Regions from separate parts of the Homo sapiens genome. Here regions 1, 2 and 4 are each linked to region 3. Evidence: fine-mapped expression QTL. A gene starts in region 3. Each other region holds a variant in brackets. All regions are shown on one strand. Distances are between the middles of the regions.

Region 1 (5,148 bases), 110 kb after region 3:
ACTCAAACTCATAGAAGCAGAGAGTAGACTAGTGGTGGCCAGGGGCTGGGCGGGGGGAAGGGGAGTGGTGGATTAATGGGTATAACATTTTAGTTATGCACGATGAGTAAGTTCTAGACATCTGCCATACAACATAGTGCCTACAGTTGACAATACTATGTTGTACACTTGAAGATTTGTTAAGAGGATAGAGCATATGTTAGTCTTACCACAATAAAATAAAGTTTTTAAAAGGGGAAAAAACGGGTCAGGCGTGGTGGCTCACACCTGTAATCCCAGCACTTTGGGAGGCCAAGGTGGGTGGATCACGAGGTCAGGAGTTCGAGACCAGCCCGGCCAACATGGTGAAACCCCGTCTCTACTAAAAATACAAAAACTAGCCAGGCGTGGTGGTGGGCGCCTGTAATCCTAGCTACTCGGGAGGCTGAGACAGGAAAATCACTTGAACCCAGGAGGCGGGGGTTGCAGTGAGCCGAGATAGTGCCACTGCACTCCAGTCTGGGTGACAGAGTGAGACTCCATCTCAAATAAAAGCGGGGTGGTGGGGGGGGAGAAAACCCCCTACCCATTAAGCAGTCACTCCCCATATCCCTCTGTCCCCAATACTGATCTCCTTTCCCTCTCTATGGATGTATCTATTCTGGACATTTCATATAAATGGGTTCATACAATAGGTGGTTTCTTTTACTTTGTGTAGTATTTTTGACGTTTATCCATGTTTTAGCATGTGGTGGTTCTTCCTTTTCTTGGCTTAGTAATATTCCATTGTGTGGATACATCATCTTTTGTTTATCCGTTGCGCAGTTTGTAGACACTGGGTTGTTTCCACCTTTGGGCTGTTGTGAACAATGCTGCTGTGAACCTCCGTGCACAAGGATTTTCTTGGGGACCTGTTTCTTCCTCTCATTCTTGCCTCCTACCACTCTACCCATTACCATATTTTTCCAAACCAGACATCAGCACACTGGCTACGTGTGTGTTTAGGAAAGCATCTGTGGAGGGAAACAGCTTGCCTCATGCTGCCCCTGCTTCCTGTCTACCCTTCTCCAAGCCTTTTTCGTCCGCTGTCACCTAGGCTTTTGGTTAATCACATGTTGAGATTAATCCCATTTTGTCTTTGGGTAATTAACATGTGATGTCCACGCATTATCTCCACGGTGAAAGTCTTAAGGTCAACGTCCCTCTTGGGGTTCTGTGTCCCCTGCAGAGCCGGGCACAGCTTGGGGCAGCTAAGCAGTCCCCTAGTTCCTAGGCCCTTGCTTGCCCCATGCCACCTGTCCACTGGTGACTAACCCTCCTGCACTCTCCCCTGTCCCCCTTGCAGATGATGTGCTGACTAAAGACGCGGGTGAGTGTGTGATCTGCCTGGAGGAGCTGCTGCAGGGGGACACGATAGCCAGGCTGCCCTGCCTGTGCATCTATCACAAAAGGTAGGAGGGGTTGGCAAGGTAGCTTAGTGCACCCCACCTCCCAGAGGGGCGGACCCCCATCTCCAGCCATTCTGTCTCCTTTGGTTATGGGATGACCTCTCCCCCGACCTCTGGCTCCGAGCGGGTAAGGGCAGAGGCCATCAGACAGGTGTCCACTGTGCCGGCGGGAAGGTGCGAGCATCCCAAGTGCAGAGCAGAGTGGAGTTGCCAGAGGTGTGCTCTGGTTTGAGGGCTCAGGTGGTGGGAGCTGATGGGGAGACCCGTAGAGCCTCACAGGTTGGAGGAGCTTCGGATCCCACTGGGAAGGTTGGTTCTCCGTCTGTCTCCCTGCCTCTTCTTCCTCTACGGGTCCCTCTGCTCCACAGGGGTAGAACATCAATCTGTGCGAGGAAGGCCAGGCGGAGGGTGTACCCACTGCCTTGCACTGGCCTTCTCCCTAGAGGGCCGGGAGGCAGGAAGAGCCATTTCCTGTGGGGCCACAGCACTGGGCACAGTTAAAAGTAGCAGGGCCCAGATATGCCTTGGGACTCCAGTGTGAGCCTCGTCCTTGTTTCCAGCTGGAAGGAAGGCACCCTCTTGCCCAAGACAGGACACTGTGCTGCCTGGGGCCAGCACCTGTTGAATCCTCGAGCCCAGAGCTTCTTCCTGACACTCAGGCCTTTCAAAGCCTGACTCTCAGGGCCACTGCTGCACAGGGTGACAACCGGGCATGGCACGCAGTGTGGCTGGTGCAGAGGAGGCTTAAGGCTGGCCTGGGAGAGATTCTTGGTCTAGCTCCCAGCACGGAGCCTTGCTTGTGTCCCAGGGCGGCACTAACCAGAACCAGAAAAGGAAATCTTTGGCCCTCGGGGAGAATTATGCCAATTATCTGTCTGGTTCCTGTCTTTGAAAATGCCCAGATGTTGGTTTACAAATCAGGAAGCTGTCTTGGGGCAATCTCTGTTCCCTCTTTGATGCAGAGAGCCTTTCTCTGTAAACACTGGAGAGCAGGGCTTCACTGTCTGGCTCCCCTCCCGCCTCTTGCAGGAAGGACTAGATGCTGCTGATCAGCTGATCATGGCTGAGCCGGGTAGAGCTTGGGGCTCTCCTAAGAGGTCACCCACTGGGAGGGAGCTTCACAGCTGTTCTTTTGACCCAGGAAGGAGCTCTTTCAGGACTGTGGCACCCAGAGCCGTGGCCCTCCTGCCATGCCATTGTTCCCACTTCCCTGCCCTTGGGAGTCTT[G/A]GAGACAGCTGACTAGCTGCCCTGAGGGGTCCACCGCTCTCACCTTCTCACTGGTGGCTGCTGCCATTCTCCTGGGCTCTGCACAGAAAGCTTTGGTCCTTCTGAAAGCCACTCTGCCCCTTCCTGCAGCACCAGATCCCCCTGAGCCGGTACTGCTGCCTCCACCTGGGCCAAGACTAGTCTTGGTGTTCACCCTTCTTCGTGCTTCAGAAAGTAGGGATATCTGGGGACATGACTGTGTTTCCCTGGGGTCCTTTCAGAAGAGACTTAGGAAGCTCCTGCTCAGGAATCTGGCCCTCTGAAAGAGCCCCTTCAAAGCAGCCTGGGCAGCAGGTAACGTGGTTTCCCTTGCGGCCCCCTCCTCCCAGCTGCATAGACTCGTGGTTTGAAGTGAACAGATCTTGTCCGGAACACCCTGCGGACTGACCTGCGGGCTTGCTTGCTGACTCCTCTCAAAGGTGAGCCCGCGTTTGGGGGTGCTCCGGGCTCAAGGCTTGGGGTCAGGTCACTTTGGGGGCCTGCAGTTTAGGGAGCCGGGCTGCCCTTATGCCACTGAGAAGAAAGCAGGAGCAGAGGGAAGGAGCACCTCATCAGTGAGCAGTTAGTCATCCGGAAATGATTTTCCCTGGGAAGGACAAGAGATACAAACCAACATGGACAGTTATGAAGAACAGGCTCAGAAGAGTTAGGATCAGTTGGGGAAGAGACCAGTACAATCTACATTCCTAAAGAAAGTTCAGGAATATCCCCTGGGAATGTGCACGGGCAGGAAAAGGAGCCTGAGCGGTGGGTTTGTGCCTGGCTTGGCCTCATCCTCGCTCACCTCTGAGTCTCCGCCTCTTCTATGGTAACGGGGATAATCTCACTCCCTGTTGCCATAAGGACATTGCACTTACTAAACAGCCATGGGCAGTGCATTGTTCCCTGCAAAGTGCTGGTCAGCGATCATTTGACCACTGCTTCTTCCCATGCCGCTTCCAGATGAATCTGAGGCCTCCAGGCCAGACTCGATCCCTCTATCCCACAGCACTGGGTGCTGACTCCACACATCCCCCTGGCTTACCGCTGGGTCTGGCCTCCCCATTTCTCCCCCAGGGGTACCCCACTTGCTGCCAACCATCCACCCCTGACCCCCATCTCACCTGTCCCCTCCAAGTTCTGGGCTGGCATTTTCCTTTTTCTGGCAAACAAGTAGACAAAACCCCCATAAAAACCAAAAGCCCAACTCCATCTCACAGCCAAAGGTTTTGGGACCTTTTTCTTCCCCCCTCCCTTTCTCTCTCTCTTGCTTTCGTTTTCTTTTGTTAGGTTTATTTTATTTATTCCAAGTAAACTCCCAGAACAGCTGATGATGTCAGACAAATCAGGGACATTTGCTCTTTTTACCTCCACCTCAAAAACTGATGACAAGGGGAGAAGAAAGAGCCAGGGGGGAGAGTGAGGCAGGGGAGTAGAACCTGCCCAGGCACATGGCTGCAAATTCCCCGTGTGCTGTTTGGCTTCTGGGGTCCTGTGTAGACGCCCCAGCCCCGCCTGCCCTCTTGGGATGCAGCTGCCCTGGGATGAGCAGACAGCCCTCGGCCCGATGGAGCACGACTTATTTATTACGGTCCACACAGGGACAGAGCGCCCCTGCTCCAGGGAGGAGGCTCACCGGACCCTGGGGCAGAGCTGAGCTTGGGACACCAGCGGGAACAGGGCACCCCTTCTGCACTGACTTCCAGATCATGGTTCTCCCTTCCTCCCTGAGGACACCAAATTGGATGAGAGCAAGTTTGAGAGAAGAATGAATCAACTGCTATCCTTCCCCTCACCCCTCAGCCCAGGAGGGAAAGGGCATTTTCTTTTTCATCTTTGAAAGGCATTGTGGGTCTGTCTTTAAAGTGTTTACAAAAAAAAATTATATAAAAAAAAAGTCTAGTGTCGACTGGTGTTTTCCCTCGTGATGTTTACAGCTTGCTGTTTGCTGCCCAGCCATAACCCACTCAGTGACAGACGAACACAGCTAAGGCCTCGCTGCCAGCCTTCTGACGGCGGGCGAGCACACGGTCTCTTCCCCTGCCCCAACTGGCCCTCTCCACCACCAACTTCTCTACTTTGGGTTTGTTTGGTTTTTTCCCTCTATTTTTCTGGCTGGTTTTTTGCTCTTTTCTCCCCTTGAGACCCTAATATCTTGACTTCATTGCCAAAAAACAACCCATTGAGAACTTTCTTCCTACTGATCCCATCTCTTTTCCCTTCTTTCCTCCTGGTTCCGGTCAGTTCAGAGGATTTAACAATCACAAGTGTCCTGCAAAAATGCCTGAACATTATTCTTAGGCCCTCGTGGATTTTTTTTTTCAGAAAACTTAAACAAAAAAAGACTTACTAAGAAATATGTACAGCTACCCCTGTTTTCAGGCACTATGTTTGAGAACATTTTAGCCATTGATGTTCACACGTGGCATCAGCCCATGCAAGATAGGTTTCTGTATTTATATATTAAAATACAAAA
Region 2 (5,148 bases), 54 kb after region 3:
CCAGATGCAGTGGCTCACTCCTGTAATCCCGGCACTTGGTGAGGTCGAGGCGGGAGGATTGCTTGACCCCAGGAATTCGAGACCATACTGGGCAACATGGCAAAACCCTGTCTCTACCCAAAATACAAAAATTAGCTGGGCGTGGTGGTGCACACCTGTAGTCCCAGCTACTTGGGAGACTGAGATCAGAGGATGGTTTGAGCCTGGGAGGCAGAGGTTGCAGTAAGCTGAGATTGTGCCACTGCACTCCAGCCTGGGCAACAGAGCCAGGCCTTGTCTCAACAATCAATCAATCGATCGTGTGTTCCTGATATTAAAAAAAAAATAAAAATACTTGTAGCCGCCGGGCACGGTGGCTCACGCCTGTAATCCCAGCACTTTGGGAGGCCAAGGCGGGCGGATCACGAGGTCAGGAGATCGAGACCATCCTGGCTAACACGGTGAAACACCGTCTCTACTAAAAAAATACAGAAAAATTAGCTGGGCATGGTGGCAGGCGCCTGTAGTCCCAGCTACTCAGGAGGCTGAGGCAGGAGAATGACATGAACCCGGGAGGTGGAGCTTGCAGTGAGCCAAGATTGCGCCACTGCACTCCAGCCTGGGCGACAGAGCAAGACTCCGTCTCAAAAAAAAAAAAAAAAAACAAAAAAAAACAAAAAACTTGTAGCCAGGTACAGTGGCTCACACCTGTAATCCTAGCACTTTGGGAGGCTGAAGCAGGAGGATGGCTTGAGCTCAGGAGTTTAACACCAGTGTGGGCAACATGGTGAGACCTTGTCGCTACAAAAAGAAAAAAAAAAAAAACAAAACCTGGGTGTCGTGGCACATGCCTGTAGTCCCAGTTACTCAGGAGGCTGAGGCAGTAGGCCCACTTGAGCCTGGGAGTTCAAGGCTGCAGTGAGCTATGATTGCACTGTACGGGTGACAGACCACCCCCTCCACTACTACCCACCTCCAAATACATCTATTTTTTTTTTTCTGAGACGGAGTCTCACTCTGTCGCCTAGTCTGGAGTGCAGTGGCACAATCTCAGCTCACTGCAGCCTCTGCCTCCCGGGTTCAAGCAATTCTCCTGCCTCAGCATCTCGAGTAGCTGGGATTACAGGTGTGTGCCACCACACCCAGCTAATTTTTTACATTTTTGGTAGAGAAAGGGTTTCCTCATGGTGGCCAGGGTGGTCTCAAACTCCTGACCTCAAGTGATCTGCCCGCCTTGGCCTCCCAAAGTGTTGGGATTACAGGCATGAGCCACCGCATCCAGCCTGCATCTTCCCCTTTTTTTTTTTGGGGGGGACGGAGTCTTGCTGTGTCTCCCAGGCTAGAGTGCAGTGGCATGATCTCGGCTCACTGCAATCTCTACCTCCCGGGTTCAAGCGATTCTCCTGCCTCAGCCTTGTGAGTAGCTGGGATTACAGGCATGTGCCACCACGCCCAACTAATTTTTGTATTTTTAGTAGATATGGGGTTTCACCGTGTTGGTCAGGCTGGTCTCGAACTCCTGACCTCATGATCCACCCACCTCAGCTTCCCGAAGTGCTGTGATTACAGGCATGAGCCACAGCACACAGCCCATCTTTTTTTAAACTATGTTTGTTTAATCATCACAAATCTATTCATCTATCCACTCCTTTATTTATCTATCCACCTCTTATTTTGTACACATTTCAAAGTAAACTATAGACATCTGTATACTTATCTTTAAATATTTCAATATGTACATCATTAACTGGTGTTAAGTATTTCTTTATAGCTTTTCCTCTTGGTGGAAAGTTTACATACAAAGAAATGTACACATTTTAAGTACATGTTCACTGGGTTTTGACAAGTACATGCATCAGCAAAACCCAAAACCCTATCAAGATAGAGAATGTGCCCGGGCGTGGTGGCTCACGCCTGTTTTTCCAGCACTTTGGGAGGCCAAGGCTGGAGGATTGCTTGAACCCAGAAGTTCGAGACCAACTTGGGCAACATGGTGAAACCCCATCTCTACCAAAAATACATAAAAATTACCTGGGTGTGGTGGCGTGCACCTGTAGTCTCAGCTGCTTGGGAGGCTGAGGTGGGAAAATTGCTTGAGCCCAGGAGGCAGAGGTTGCAGTGAGCCAGCATGGCACCACTGCATTCCAGCCTGAGTGACAGAGCCAGACCCTGTCTCAAAAAAAAAAAAAAGAAAAGAAAAAGATAATGTTATGTTACCCCACCTGCCTCACATTGTGAGTCAGTAGACTCATAGTTGGGTCCAAACATAAGATGTTTGTAAAAAGGTCCCTGATTTTGACCACTACCCTTTTAAATAAAGAAGCTTGGGGATGTGAAAGTCCTCCTCCAGGTCAGCAGGCTTGTTTAAGGTGAGACCATGTCCTCTGACCTCAGGGCTATGACTGCCATTCTCACTTCTTCAAGGCCACCTCCATTTCCAGCAGGCAGGTGTGTCAGACAGTAAAATTGAGAGAACTGTTCAGTGAACACCCATATAACCACCACCTCAACCGTGCAGCCAACATTGTCTATATTGCTTTATCACAGACTGTCTATACAGCCTTCCCTCCATCGATCTGTCTGTCCGTCCAGCTTACTGTTGTGATGCATTTCACAAAATGCACTCTTAATCATTGCATGATCTCTTTTGTGATTTTGCTCTGTGGAACACAAACTTACAGAGTTAAAGCAAGGCTGGCAACCCATGTGAAAATGAGGAGAATCTGAGCCTTTTCATTTGCTGCCACTGGGG[A/T]CATGATGTGAATCGGCGCCCTCTGACTTAGCTCCATGGGGCCTCTGGATTGGAAGTGAGGGAGGAGCCTCCTGAGCAAATGGACTGAAATTCCTGCCCTAGGTAGGCTGATTGCCTTCCTGAAGCTCTATTTATAGATCGCAGAGGAAATCTAGGGGGCTTTATCTCACTTCCCACCCCACATAATAAAACTGGTTCAGGTGGGTGGCTAGAACCTTAAAGTTAAACATCAATTATCTAAATATACATATAAGGTGGGAATAGAGGGTCAGAAAAGCATTTTTGTTCTCTAACTTGAGGACTCCAGCTAAAAACATAAAAATCGCCAATGGCTGGGTGCAGTGGCTCATGCCTGTAATCCCAGCACTTTGGGAGGCCAAGGCAGGTGGATCACCTGAGGTCAGGAGTTCAAGACTAGCCTGGCCAACATGGTGAAACCCTGTCTCTACTAAAAATACAAAAATTAGCCAGGCCTGGTGGCACACGCCTATAGTCCCAGCTACTCAAGAGACTGAGGCAGGAGAATCGCTTGAACCTGGGAGGCGGAGGTTGCGGTGAGCCGAGATCACACCATTGCACTCCAGCCTTCTGTGACAGAGCGAGACTCCATCTCAAAAAAAAAAAAAAAAAAAAAAATCACCAATGTCCAGTGGCTGTCACTATCAGGGGCTATTTGTGAGCTTCCCTAATGCCCATGATAGATGTGCCCCATGCTGTAAAACACATCCACCTATTAAATAAGCAGAGTGGACTCACATAAGTAGTAATTTCCTCACAAGCTCAGAAAATGTCTTTTCAGTTTGTACTTTGGTGTGTACACATCACATTTTGGAGAAAGTCTAGACTTTAGAAAAGAGCCTTTAGGGTATTCCCAGGTTGTTCCTGGGCTCCTGTACTCCCTGTTCAGGTCACCTCTGCTGGCTTTGGCTCATTGTGGCCACGCAAGTTCTTTGTTACATATTCCCTTTGGTGATCAGAGTCTTCCCAAGCCATGGTCAAAACTTTACTTTTCGTATGAACTATGTGTCTTCCCCTTCAGGGAATAGGACTGATGCCATTTGAGATTATTTCTTCCTTCCTTGTTGACAATTCCCTTTGTACTCCCCCAAGGCCCTAAGCAAGGACCCTTAGTTTCCTCTGGTTTCGTGGTTCCTGTGAAAAAGGCAGAAGCCCATGTGGAAAATCCTCATCCTGCTGTGTTTCAACAAGCAAAGTGCATTTTGTCTTTCAGAGTGGGAAGGACCTTAACTGTGTTGACCAGAAGTGCAGTTCCTGGCTTCAGCCATTTTGCTTTGGAGAAGGAAAATAAATGCAGTGACCTTTGTTGTGAGGGTAGGGTACTCTTGTTCTAAAAGTCCATTTGTGGTGAGGCGTGGCCCTGCTGGGAGAAGCTGATGCCACTTTGCCTCCCTGGCACCCTGCCAGTTCTGTCTGCTTTGTTGACTTTGGTGGCTCAAGGGACAAGCCAGGCACTGGCTCATCTTTTCCTGCCTGATTCTCTGGGCAGATTTCTCCATAGGGTCTGCAGGGAAGTGGGGGAAAGCTGGGTATGGTCAGAGTGGAGGTCACTATGTGGGCTTCTCAGTCCTCATGCTGGTCTGTGTCAGGTGCCTTTAATTCAGGGCCTAAGGAACCATTGCTTTTTAGCCTAAGCAGCAATTTAATAATTTAGCAATCAGGTAATACTGGCACTTTGTTCTCCCCTGGCTGTTTTCTCAAGCTAAGTTCTGTGTTAGCATTTCTTGATTTCTCCCCTGATACTAATCCTCCTGGGAGATTGGCCTTACCTATTCACGTGGAGCGTGGCTTCTCTAGGAATGTGGGAATTGCTCCATGGCAATGGTGCTTTGGCCTTCACTGCCCACATCACTGGGACCATCCCAGCCCTTCTTGTCTCTAGCCTTTCTTACAGGTCAAGTCCAAACAGGAGGATCTGACTCTCTTCTTGGTCTTTTCTCCTGTCTAGCTGTCTTGTTTTAGAGCAGAAATTAAAGGAGCAGGGTGTCCTAATGAAACTGTTACTGTGATCATATCAGCTCTCTAGAACAAATTCAGAAAGACGGCCCTTTGTAACAGGCAGACTGGGTGGGCAGGCGTTCGTTTGTAAAGAGATGGCTTTCCTCTCCCAACAAGCAGGGCCAGGCATCACCCCATGCTGCATTGATGCAGGGAGTGAATTGAGAAGTGTGGGAACGTCATTTGGACTCTTTCCATTGCTCCCATTTTAATGCTTTCTAAAGGAACTGTTTCTCAGGTTTAAATAAAGTGGCAACACTGGCTTACTAGAACTTATTTATTTTTATTTATTTATTTTTGAGGCGGAGTCTCGCTGTATCACCCAGGCTTACTAGAATTTAGAACCACTCCTTCATTTGTGTGTATCCATTCTGTCTTTCCAGTCCCCAATGTATGATGTA
Region 3 (5,148 bases):
ATGGCTGGCTTCTTTTAGTTAATATGCTTTTACAAGATTCATCCATGTTGTAATATGAATCAGTACTTTATTCCTTTTCATGGCTGAATAATATTTCATTGTATAGATACACCACATTTGGTTTACCTCTTCATCAGTTGATGAGCATTTGGGTTGTTTCCACTTTTTAGCTCTTTTGAATAATGCTGCTATGAACATTTACGTACACATTTTTCTGCAGACATATGTTTTGCTTTCTCTTGGAACTCTACCTAGGTAGGAGCAGAATTGCTGGGTCATGTAACTCCACATTTAATCTTTTTGAGGAACTGTCAGGCTGTTTTCCAAAGCAGCTGCACCATTTTACATTTCCACCAGCAAGGTACAAGGGTTCCAATTTCTCCACCTCTCATCAATACTTACTATTGCCCTTCTCTTTGATCATAGCCATTCAAGTGGGTGGGAAGTGTTTCTTCTGATGTTCTATGAGAACAGGGACTCCATCTGTCTGGTTCTGGTTCAGTACTGTATCCCAGAACCTACTACAGTGCCTGGAATTTATTACATACTAAATATTGTGTTAAATACACTAAAAAACTGTTCAGTGAATGGATAAATCAAAAGCTGTTTGGATAGTTACAATGGGTATCATGTATTTATCTCTCTAATAGGGATCTTCCACGGGGTCTAATACCTTTTTTTTTTTTAGTATAGTACTGAACCACTCTTCTGATACCATAGTCTTTCTTCTAGGAGGAAATGGGATTAAATTTAAGCTTTCTTGTTTTTCCTCTTTAGGTATACACATACTCATATAGGCACCTACAGATAATTTATTAGATGTTGGCACATTTTGTTTCTTCCTATTTTTACTTCTCTTGCAAAAATTCTTACTTCTACAGGGCTGTTTGCTCACCTCCAGGTATTTCATGCTTGCAAATAGGTTTCCTCCTGTTTCCAGGCTGGCCACAATGGAACAATCAATACCTGTGACGGGCTAGCCTTGCTCTTTTTGGTTTTCTTTTAATATTTCTGAACATCCTGTTTTGGTCCCCCAGTTTAGAAGTATCTGGGGTCATTTAATAGGTGGAAGTCAGCTAAGCCAGGGACTGTGTGATACTCACAGCCAGCACCTAGCACTTGATAAATAGTTGTTCAGCAGTCACAGTGGCTCATGATGTAATCCCAGCACTTTGTGAAGCCGAAGTGGGAGGACTGCTTGAGGCCAGGAGTACCGGCCTGGACAACATGGGGAAACTCCCATCTCTACTATATATGTATGTATATACACATATATATATATCATATGTATATTTTGAGACAGTCTCGTTCTGTTGCCCAGTCTGGAGTGCAGTGACGCGATCTCAGCCCATTGCAACCTCTGTCTCGCGGGTTCAAGCCATTCTCCTGCCTCAGCTACCCAAGTAGCTGGGATCACAGGCGTGAGCTACCACACCTGGCTAATTTATTTATTTTTTATTTTCATTTTTTTTTAGTAGAAATGAGGTTTCACCATGTTGGTCAGGCTGGTTGCAAACTCCTAACCTCAGGTGATCCCCTGCCCCATCTCCCCCCACCCCCCCACCCCCAGCCTCCCACAGTGCTGGAATTACAAGCATGAGCCACCGTGCCCGGCCTGATTTTGAAATTTTTAACAGACTTTTACTCGGGAGGCTGAGGCAGAAGAATCACTTGAACCTGGAAGGCGGAGGTTGTCCAGCCTGGGAGGAGCAAGGCTCCGTCTCAAAAAAAAAAAAAAAGAAAAGAAAAAAAAGAAAAAGAAAAACAGGGCGGGCGCGGTGGCTCATGCCTGTAATCCTAACACTTTGGGAGGCCAAGGCAGGTGGATTACCTGAGGTCAGGAGTTCAAGACCAGCCTGGCCAATACGGTGAAACCCCGCCTCTACTAAAAATACAAAAAATTAGCCAGGTGCAGTGTGGCATGTGCCTGTAATCCCAGCTACTCGGGAGGCTGAGGCAGGAGAATCACTTGAATCCGGGAGGCGGAGGTTGCGGTGAGCCGAGGTTACGCCACACCACTCCAGCCTGGGTGACAGGGCGAGATTACGTCTCAAAAACAAAAACAAAACAAAACAAAAAAAACAGTTGTTCAATAAATGAATGTGAATATAGGAGAAAGACGGCTTGAGGTAGCAAAGGAACACTCCCTTGCAAATGATTCAGGCTTGGTCAACAATACACCTATTGAGTACCCACCGTGTCCTTGGCCCGTGGTGAGGGCCGAAACACAGCACATGGTAAACAAAACAGGGCTCCAGCCTTGGACAGAAGGTTTCTATAATCACTTCTAGCTGCGTTGTTCTATTTCCATACCCATATCTATTCACTTTTTATGGTACATCTATTGATTCTGAAAATTACATTTTAGCTAAGGAATCTACTCATTTGCTTAAGCCCAAAATAGGAAGTTATGATCTAGTGTCAGCAAAACGCCGGATTCACAAGTGTCCCCATGGCGCTGTTTACCCCCAAATAACTAAACCCCGCCAAATGTTGAGATTCCGGACGTGAGGGGTGCTTGGATGGGGAACCCCCGAAAGAATGGACATCACGTCCACCAGAGGGTGCTGTGGGGGCAAATTTGTGCCAGGAGGGGAGCTCGACCGGTGACCCTCAGAGCCAGGTAGGCGTAAGGAGTAAATCTCCTTCTTCCCGGTGTTTCCTTCCCACCCCCTCGAACCATTGCTGCCCCTCCCCCATACTTGGTTCCCCCTGAATAATTTGCCACTTTCGGGGACTTAAGAAGTGTTTGCTTTTGAAAGACATCTGGTTTCTGTGGCTAACGCCCAGTGGTCAGGCCGCCCAGGTCACAGGCCGGCCGGGGGCGGGCGGTGGGTGGGGACTGCTGGGGCGTCAGCGGCCCAGGCGCCGCAGGGACCGCGAAAGGGTTAACCCGGCGGGGGGAGGGGGAGGGGGCGCGGGCCGCGCCTGCGCTCTGCCGCCCTCCATTGTCTCCACGGCGGCGAGGAGCGCCGGCGAGCGCAGCCCGGGACCGAGCGGGGCGGCGCGGCTGGCGGGGCCGGCGGCGGCTGAAGCGAGAGCGCGACGCGACGCGACCGCGGCTTCCCGAGCTGCGCCTGGCCGCCCAGCGCCGCGGCCCGCCCGAGGCCTGGAGGGGTCCGGGCCGCCGTCCATGGTCGCGGCGTCCTGAGGCGGGGGACGCGCCCGGCGCCCCCGGCCCTCCTCCGCCTCCTCCCGCGGGGCGGGCGGCCTCCTCCGGCGCCTCCCCGCGCCCGCCCGCCGCTCGCCGCCGCCTCCCTCCCTCCTTCCCTGCGGCTCCCCCGGCTTTCGGAGCCCGGGGGCGGCCTGTGGCGCGCGGAGCCCGCGCCGGACTGCGCCTCTTTGGACCTTGAGGGGAAACATGCGTTTGCCTTGGATCGTTTGAAATTCTGAGTTTGGGATCCCCGCCCGCCCGCCTGCCTCTTCCGCCCCGCGGGTTTTTTCCTTTTTTCCTTTTGCTTTTTTTCCTTTTCTCCCTCCGGGTCTCCTTTTTGACTCCCTCCCCCTTTATGCTCGCCCAGCCCTCCCCCTGCTGCTGAGAAGTGGGGGAGGGTCTCGGCCTCCAGGTTCCCGCCCCACCGGGGCCCGGGCGAGCATGGGGGGCAAGCAGAGCACGGCGGCCCGCTCCCGGGGCCCCTTCCCGGGGGTCTCCACCGATGACAGCGCCGTGCCGCCGCCGGGAGGGGCGCCCCATTTCGGGCACTACCGGACGGGCGGCGGGGCCATGGGGCTGCGCAGCCGCTCGGTCAGCTCGGTGGCAGGCATGGGCATGGACCCCAGCACGGCCGGGGGGGTGCCCTTTGGCCTCTACACCCCCGCCTCCCGGGGCACCGGCGACTCCGAGAGGGCGCCCGGCGGCGGAGGGTCTGCGTCCGACTCCACCTATGCCCATGGCAATGGTTACCAGGAGACGGGCGGCGGTCACCATAGAGACGGGATGCTGTACCTGGGCTCCCGAGCCTCGCTGGCGGATGCTCTACCTCTGCACATCGCACCCAGGTGGTTCAGCTCGCATAGTGGTGAGTCCGCGGGTGGTGGAGGCCTCGGAGGGAGGGCGCGCCGGGGCGCCCCAAGCCTTCGCGTGCGTGCCAAGGTTTGGGAATGTAGTGCACGACCGGGATCTGTCTGCATTCCCTTTGGTTCCCGATGCCAAGGGATAAATGGGATACCTACCGTCTGGAAACTAGGCTTTCTGCGAGGCTGCGGAGCCTGGCGATTTAGGGACTCACGGCGTGTGTTCACTTGTGGAAGGGCAGAGCGAAGCCTACCTATTGGAGTTCCATTTATTGGCATCACCCTCCTCAGAGAAGAGGTCGTGTCTGGCTGAGAGCAAGTCAGCCTGGGTACTTCCATTCTGCCACTGCAGCACTGTGCCTGCCTCACCGGTAACGGAGAGATGGAGCCAGTTGGAGCAAGCAGTGTCTCCTAAACAGAGTGTGTGAAAATGAAATAAAATCAGGGGCAAGTGATGCCTGGATTAGGGCTCTCACTCTTGCTGGGAGAGAGAGGTGCCCAGTTTTGCCACCCTGCTGGAGATCTGTTTGAAATGTTTAAAATGGAGCAGCCGGCAGGCGGCTGGCATAGACAGGTGTGGCTGCTGTACGGAGGGCCCAGCCGGCGAGTCTCGCGGGGGCTTTGCAGGACCCGGGCTGTGGTCACCCGTACTGCATGCAGCAGGCTTGGCTCCGCGACTCTCGCCTCCCTCCATCTTTTTTTCTTCTGCTCCATGCTAAGTGCTTGGTCTTCCCGTGAATCTGCATCTTTTTGTAACAGGGAGCCTGTCACGGTGGGGCATTATTGCCTGGCTGTTGGCACATGACTGGGGAAAAGGAGGATTCAGAGAATCTGGATGAATTCATTTTATGAACTTCTGGTGACAGGCCAGCAAAAGGTTGGAGGGGGATTTCCCAGGCTCCTAGCGGGAGGGCAAAAAAGGCCTGGCAGGAGGAAAACAGGTCTGTCTGCTAGGTCAGGCATCTAGAAAATTGGCCAAAAGGGATGTGGGGGCCGCTATTTGCTAATTGGCAAGTTGAGTGATGAAGTTACATCTTAAGATTCTTTTGGGTGAGTTGGGAAAATTTAGATAGTGTAGGGGAAAGATTGCTCCTGCCTTTAGGGTACTTTATGGAGGGTAATATCTGTTGGATC
Region 4 (5,148 bases), 92 kb after region 3:
GAAAGAAGCTGGGGATATTAGTCTTTTCTAGCTGTCCGTGTTTTTTCTGTCCTTCTTACCTTTTACCCTTTATTTTCCATTTAAAAGGTCATCTGCAGATTCAGCATCTTACAACCAGTGCTGTAGGCCCAGTGCCAAATGGAAAGCAGAACTCCAGATAGTTATAACAGAGTTCCTAGGAAAAAAAAGTGTCCATTGTTTCAGGCTACAAGTTAGCCCGGACTATGGGGCACTTAAGGAGAAATTGCTGGGACAGTGTAGAAGGTTCATAAATGAGTATTTGGTAATAGCTGGTAGTATTTCTGTTCTTTCTGCCATGTAACTCTTCTGTGCTAGTCAGTCAGTAGCACAGCACACGAGCAAGAGCGCAGACTTCCTAGGTGTCGTGGGCCAGCTCTGCCTCTTTCTGGCCATGCGAATCTTGATCAGGTTATGTAATCTTCTGAGCCTTGATGTCCTCATCTGTCAAATGGCGTTAATGATAGATAGTACCTACCTACCGTATATGAGAAGACATGTAAAGCACCATGGCTGTCCATAGTAATGACTCAATAAATGCAAACTATTATTTATTATCATATGCAAGAGTAGGTGCTGCAGAGGTTAAAGAGAGACTGTTGGTTTCCAGTTGGCAGTATGGAAAGTGCCAGTCGTAGTGCACAGTGCTCGAGAGGTTCAAAGGAAACGGTGATGGCACCCGGCAGAGATGGGAGCTGCTGGCCACCCCCTAGTGGACTCTGCATAGCCCATGGCCAGTGTGCCCTTGCCATGGTCTCGAGGATGGAAAAGCCAGGTCATCATGTGATTTCCCACTCGCATAATAGACACCAACTTACTCATTTTTGTTTTTTGTTTAGACAGGGTCTCACTCTGTTGGCCAGGCTGGAGTGTAGTGGCATGATCATGGCTCACTGCAGCCTCAACCTCCTGGGCTCAAGCGATCCTCCTGCCTCAACCTCCCACGTAGCTGGGATTAGAGGCATGCACCACCATGCCCAGCTAATTAAAAAAAAAAAGTTTTTAATAGAGACGGGGTCTCCCTGTGTTGTCCAGGCTGATCTCAAACTCCTGGGCTAAAGTGATCCTCCCACCATGGCCTCCCACAATGCTGGTATTACAGGTGTGAGCCACCGTGCCCAGCCCAGAGCTATTTCTTGAGCTATGCCAAAATAAAACAGAAACACCAGAGGTAGTAGATGCTGGTGTTACTAACCCTGCTTTAGTTAAAGTGTAGGCCTCTTCCTACACCAGTGGTGCTTCCTCTCCAGAGGTAATATTTCCCAACATGCCTCGTTCTTAAAACCCTATGGCCAACTCTCCCTACCCTGACGGAAAGGACTTTAGATTTGAAGCAGAGAACCCTGAGGCTAGTCTCAGCTCCACCTCCTCAGTTGTGTGACAGTGTGCTACTCAGAGGCCTTCACCAGGGCCCATTCCCTCATCTGGACAGTGAGGGGATTGCTCTAAACTTGAGTCTCCGCCTTTTTTTTCTAGGACATGAATGTCTGGTGACATTCCCTTGTAGACCTTCTTGTTGGGTGGCCTACTTCCTAGTACCTTAGCTGTAACTCAACTCCCCTCCTGCACTCAAGGAATCACGCTGGAATACAGGGGAGTAAATGATGCTATTATAGGGATAACCTTGAATCTGTTCTGAGTTATCAGAAACATAAGTACCTGCAAGGTGTAGTTTTGTTCTTAGTCACAGGTCACTTTAACGCTAGGCAGTGAGAGTGTCAGGGCCTGGAGGCAGAAGGCCTGTCCTAGACCACATCCCTCCTCTCCTTCCACAGCCTCAGCCTGCAGGCAGGTGCCAAGTTAAAGTGCAGGTGTCCTTTAGTTATTTAAAGGGTTGCAAAACCTTGGTCTTTGGGGTTGAAAAAAACCCCATGTGAGTGCAGAGGGACTTAGGCTGGATCGGAAAAGCATCTTCCATCTGTGAGACGCAGGTTTACACCTCACCTCCCCATCGAGCTGTGACCCTGGATCTGCACATTTCTAAACTGAGTTAGAAAATAATCAGCCTGGTGTGTTTAGATCCAGCTGTGCAAGAAAACTGGATGGAATTCCCCTCCTTTCTTTATAGTCTTCTGGGGTTTGTTGTTGTTGTTCTGGTTGTTGTGTCCTTTTTGTGGAGAACGGGGTCTCACTGTGTTGCCCGGGCAGGTCTCAAACTCCTGAGTCCAAGTGATCCTCCCACCGTGGCCTCTCAAAATGCTGGGATTACAGGCGTGAGCCACCACACCAGGCCTGGTCTTCTAGCTTTGTTAATGATGGATTTATAACCACCCAGAGGTTAGAAATACAGCCCTTTCCCGAAGCTCCACCAAAGTCCTTGGATTGGTAGCGTTTCCAAGACTTTTTAAGTGACATGCTCAGATGCTAAGAATCTCTGAGGAAAGAGGTTGGGGAAATGGCGACTGTGCCATGGAGTCAACTGTCCACTTTGTCTGTAGTTAGCCAGGCCCTGAATTTTCTGCCTGGTCCCATAGTTCAAAGCACTGCCAATGAAGGGAAAAAAAGAGGATTTGGAGAGGACTTTAAGCAAAGTGGTTGCGTCAGTTAGCCTCCTGTCTCTCAGCACCCCGGGCCACCAGAGTCACGGCTTTTCATGCAGAGTTAGGCACCCAATTAAATAAAAATTTAATTTTAATTTGTATTTTTTGTAGAGGCAGAGTTTAACTATGTTGCTCAGGCTAGTCTTGAACTCCTGAGCTCAAGTGATTTCCCCACCTTGGCCTCCTAAAGTGCTGGGATTACAGGCGTGAGACACCGCACCCAGCCACATTCAGCCTTTTATCTGTTTCATAAGAAATGTTGGGTGACTGATGCCTGTAATCCCAGCACTTTGGGAAGCTCAGGCAGGTAGATCATCTGAGGTCAGGCATTTGAGACCAGTCTAGCCAATGTGGCGAAACCTAGTCTCTCCTAAAAATACAAAAATTAGCCAGGCATGGTGGCGCTCACCTGTAATCCCAGCTACTCGGGAGGCTGAGGTGGGAGACTCTCTTGAACCCGGGAGGCAGAGGTTGCAGTGAGCGGAGATCGTGCCACTGCACTCCAGCCTGGGCAACAGAGTAAGACTCCATCT[C/CA]AAAAAAAAAAAAAGAAAAGAAAAGAAATATTGCAGATGGTTATCACTAGTATCAATTAAAACTGCATATGGAAAATTTGACTAACACAAGAGTCCAGTCTTTACAACAGTATAGTGAACTCTTGAACTACGTGGGAGACTCTGACCCCCACACAGTCAAAAATCTGCATATAACTTTTTTTTTTTTTTTTTTGAGACAGGATCTTGCTCTGTCCCCCAGGCTGGAGTGCAGTGGCACAAACATGGCTCACTGCAGCTTTGACCTCCTGGGCTCAAGCCATCCTCCCACCTCAGCCTCTCAAGTAGCTAGGACTACAGGCACACACCACCACTCCCAGCTAATTTTTTTTTGTAATTTTTGTAGAGACAGGCTTTTGCCATGTTGCCTAGGCTGGTCTCAAACTCCTGAGCTCAAGCAGTCTGCCGGCTTCAGCCTCCCAGAGTACTGGAATTACAGGCATGCACGACCACACCCAGCCCTGTGGATAACTTTTGACTCCCCCACAACTTAACTACTAATAGCCTACTGTTAACCAGAAGCCTTACCAATAACATAAACAGTCGATTAAGATGGATTTTGTATGTTATAAATGTATTATATACTGTATTACAATAAGGAGAGAGAAAATAAAATGTTATTAAGAAAATGATAAGGAAGTGGCCAGGTGCGGTGGCTCACACCTGTAATCCTAGCACTTTGGGAGGCTGAGGGCAGGAGACTGTTTGAGCCCAGGGGTTCAAGACCAGCCTAGGCAGCATAGCAAGACCCCATCTCTAATATTAAGAAAAAAATTTTTAATAACATTTAAAAATATGTATAAGGAAGAGAAAATATATTTAGTGTTCGTTAAGTGGAAGTGGATCGTCATAAAGGTCTTCATCGTGTTCACATTGAGTAGGCTGAAGAGGAGGAGGAGGAGGGGTTGGTCTTGCTGTCTTAGGGTGGCAGAGGCGATAGAAAATCCACATGGAAGTGGAGCCCCACCATTCGAGCCCATGTTGTTTGAGGGTCAGCTGTTGTTAAATGTGCCACATTAGGAAGTCCAGGCTGGGCGGGCAGGAATCACAGTCACAAAAGGGAGAAACTGTGATGTGCACAATTTAATGCAGAGAAATAAGATTTCAGTGGCAACAGATCTTTTTGATAGAATGTATATGGAAAAGAATTGATCCATTTGAAAATCATTTCAATGAAAGTAGATTGGAAAAAATTAGAAATAATTCATCTGTGTTGTATGGACAAATGGATCAGGGGATTAGGTTTGCTTAACGGAGTTCAACTCGAAAGATTCTCAACCAAAATTCTCCAGTATGGGTACAATTCTGTATCAGTTGAAACTCTGGATGTGTAAGCAGTTCACACACATCTCAAAGGACAGTGGCCTTAAGCCACAAAGGAGGCAGAGGGGGCTGTGGGTGAGGGAGAGAGTTGCTACCTGGCATGGGCGGCTGAGGCTGGGAGCTGGGTGAGGGATGAGATTCCTCCCAGGGTGATCCAACCAAGTGGCTGAAAGGCTGTGAGGCAGAAGAATGTTAAACTGTTATGCAAAGGCTGTTTCCAGGTGCCTTGGTTTGATGCCTCCCTACCCCATTGTCCACCAGACCCATCTGAGAAAGGGTCTAAAGAAGATAAAACTCAAGTCAGGTGTCAGTGACCTTGGTTAAACCTTAACGAGGCACATAAGGCAGGGTGAGCCCTAGTGAAAGCTGGCAGTCAGTCAAAGGCTGCAATAAAAGGCAAATGCCACCGGGCGCGGTGGCTCATGCCTGTAATCTCAGAACTTTGGGAGGCCGAGGCGGGTGAATCACCTGATGTCAGGAGTTCAAGACTAGCCTGGCCACCATAGTGAAACCCCCTCTCTACTAAAAATACAAAAATTAGCCAGGCGTCATGGCAGACACCTGTAATCCCAGCTACTTGGAAGGCTGAGGCAGGAGAATCGCTTGAACCCGGGATGCAGAGGTTGCAGTGAACTGAGATCGTGCCACTGCACTCCAGCCTGGGCGACAGAGTGAGACTTCGTCTCAAAAAAAAAAAAAAAAAAGGCAGATGCTCA

Alleles and levels. Positions count from the first base shown, and alleles are read on the strand shown. Sizes are in standard deviations (SD) of each study's normalised expression. Not every link is listed here.
With allele CA in place of C in region 4, the expression in monocytes after LPS of the gene that starts at base 2,948 in region 3 is higher (moderate effect, 0.54 SD a copy in Quach 2016).

The links. PIP is the estimated chance that this variant, and not a neighbour inherited with it, causes the effect. A credible set is the group of variants that fine-mapping cannot tell apart.
Region 1: its variant is the best candidate, but not a certain one, in a credible set for the expression of ZNRF1 in fibroblasts (GTEx, PIP 0.57).
Region 2: its variant is the best candidate, but not a certain one, in a credible set for the expression of ZNRF1 in whole blood (INTERVAL, PIP 0.76).
Region 4: its variant is the best candidate, but not a certain one, in a credible set for the expression of ZNRF1 in monocytes after LPS (Quach 2016, PIP 0.82).

Annotation. Positions count from the first base shown.
Region 1 is chr16:75,103,460-75,108,607 of GRCh38, forward strand. It overlaps ZNRF1 (zinc and ring finger 1), which reads left to right. Exons shown (of 5, transcript NM_032268.5): 3 at 1,325-1,430; 4 at 3,023-3,112; 5 at 4,274-5,148. The coding sequence ends at 3,080. Among named protein-coding and RNA genes, the nearest start is that of LDHD, 11 kb to the right of the region's middle. RefSeq lists an enhancer at 4,207-4,376. The variant G/A (reference allele first, on the strand shown) is at 2,655.
Region 2 is chr16:75,050,246-75,055,393 of GRCh38, forward strand. All of the region lies in intron 1 of ZNRF1 (zinc and ring finger 1), which reads left to right. Among named protein-coding and RNA genes, the nearest start is that of ZNRF1, 54 kb to the left of the region's middle. The variant A/T (reference allele first, on the strand shown) is at 2,732.
Region 3 is chr16:74,996,077-75,001,224 of GRCh38, forward strand. It overlaps ZNRF1 (zinc and ring finger 1), which reads left to right and starts at 2,948. Exons shown (of 5, transcript NM_032268.5): 1 at 2,948-4,019. The coding sequence starts at 3,596. RefSeq lists silencers at 2,740-3,259, 3,660-3,969 and an enhancer at 4,760-4,819.
Region 4 is chr16:75,088,267-75,093,414 of GRCh38, forward strand. The region is part of intron 1 of ZNRF1 (zinc and ring finger 1); the gene reads left to right. Among named protein-coding and RNA genes, the nearest start is that of LDHD, 26 kb to the right of the region's middle. RefSeq lists an enhancer at 1-111 and a silencer at 5,022-5,148. The variant C/CA (reference allele first, on the strand shown) is at 3,092.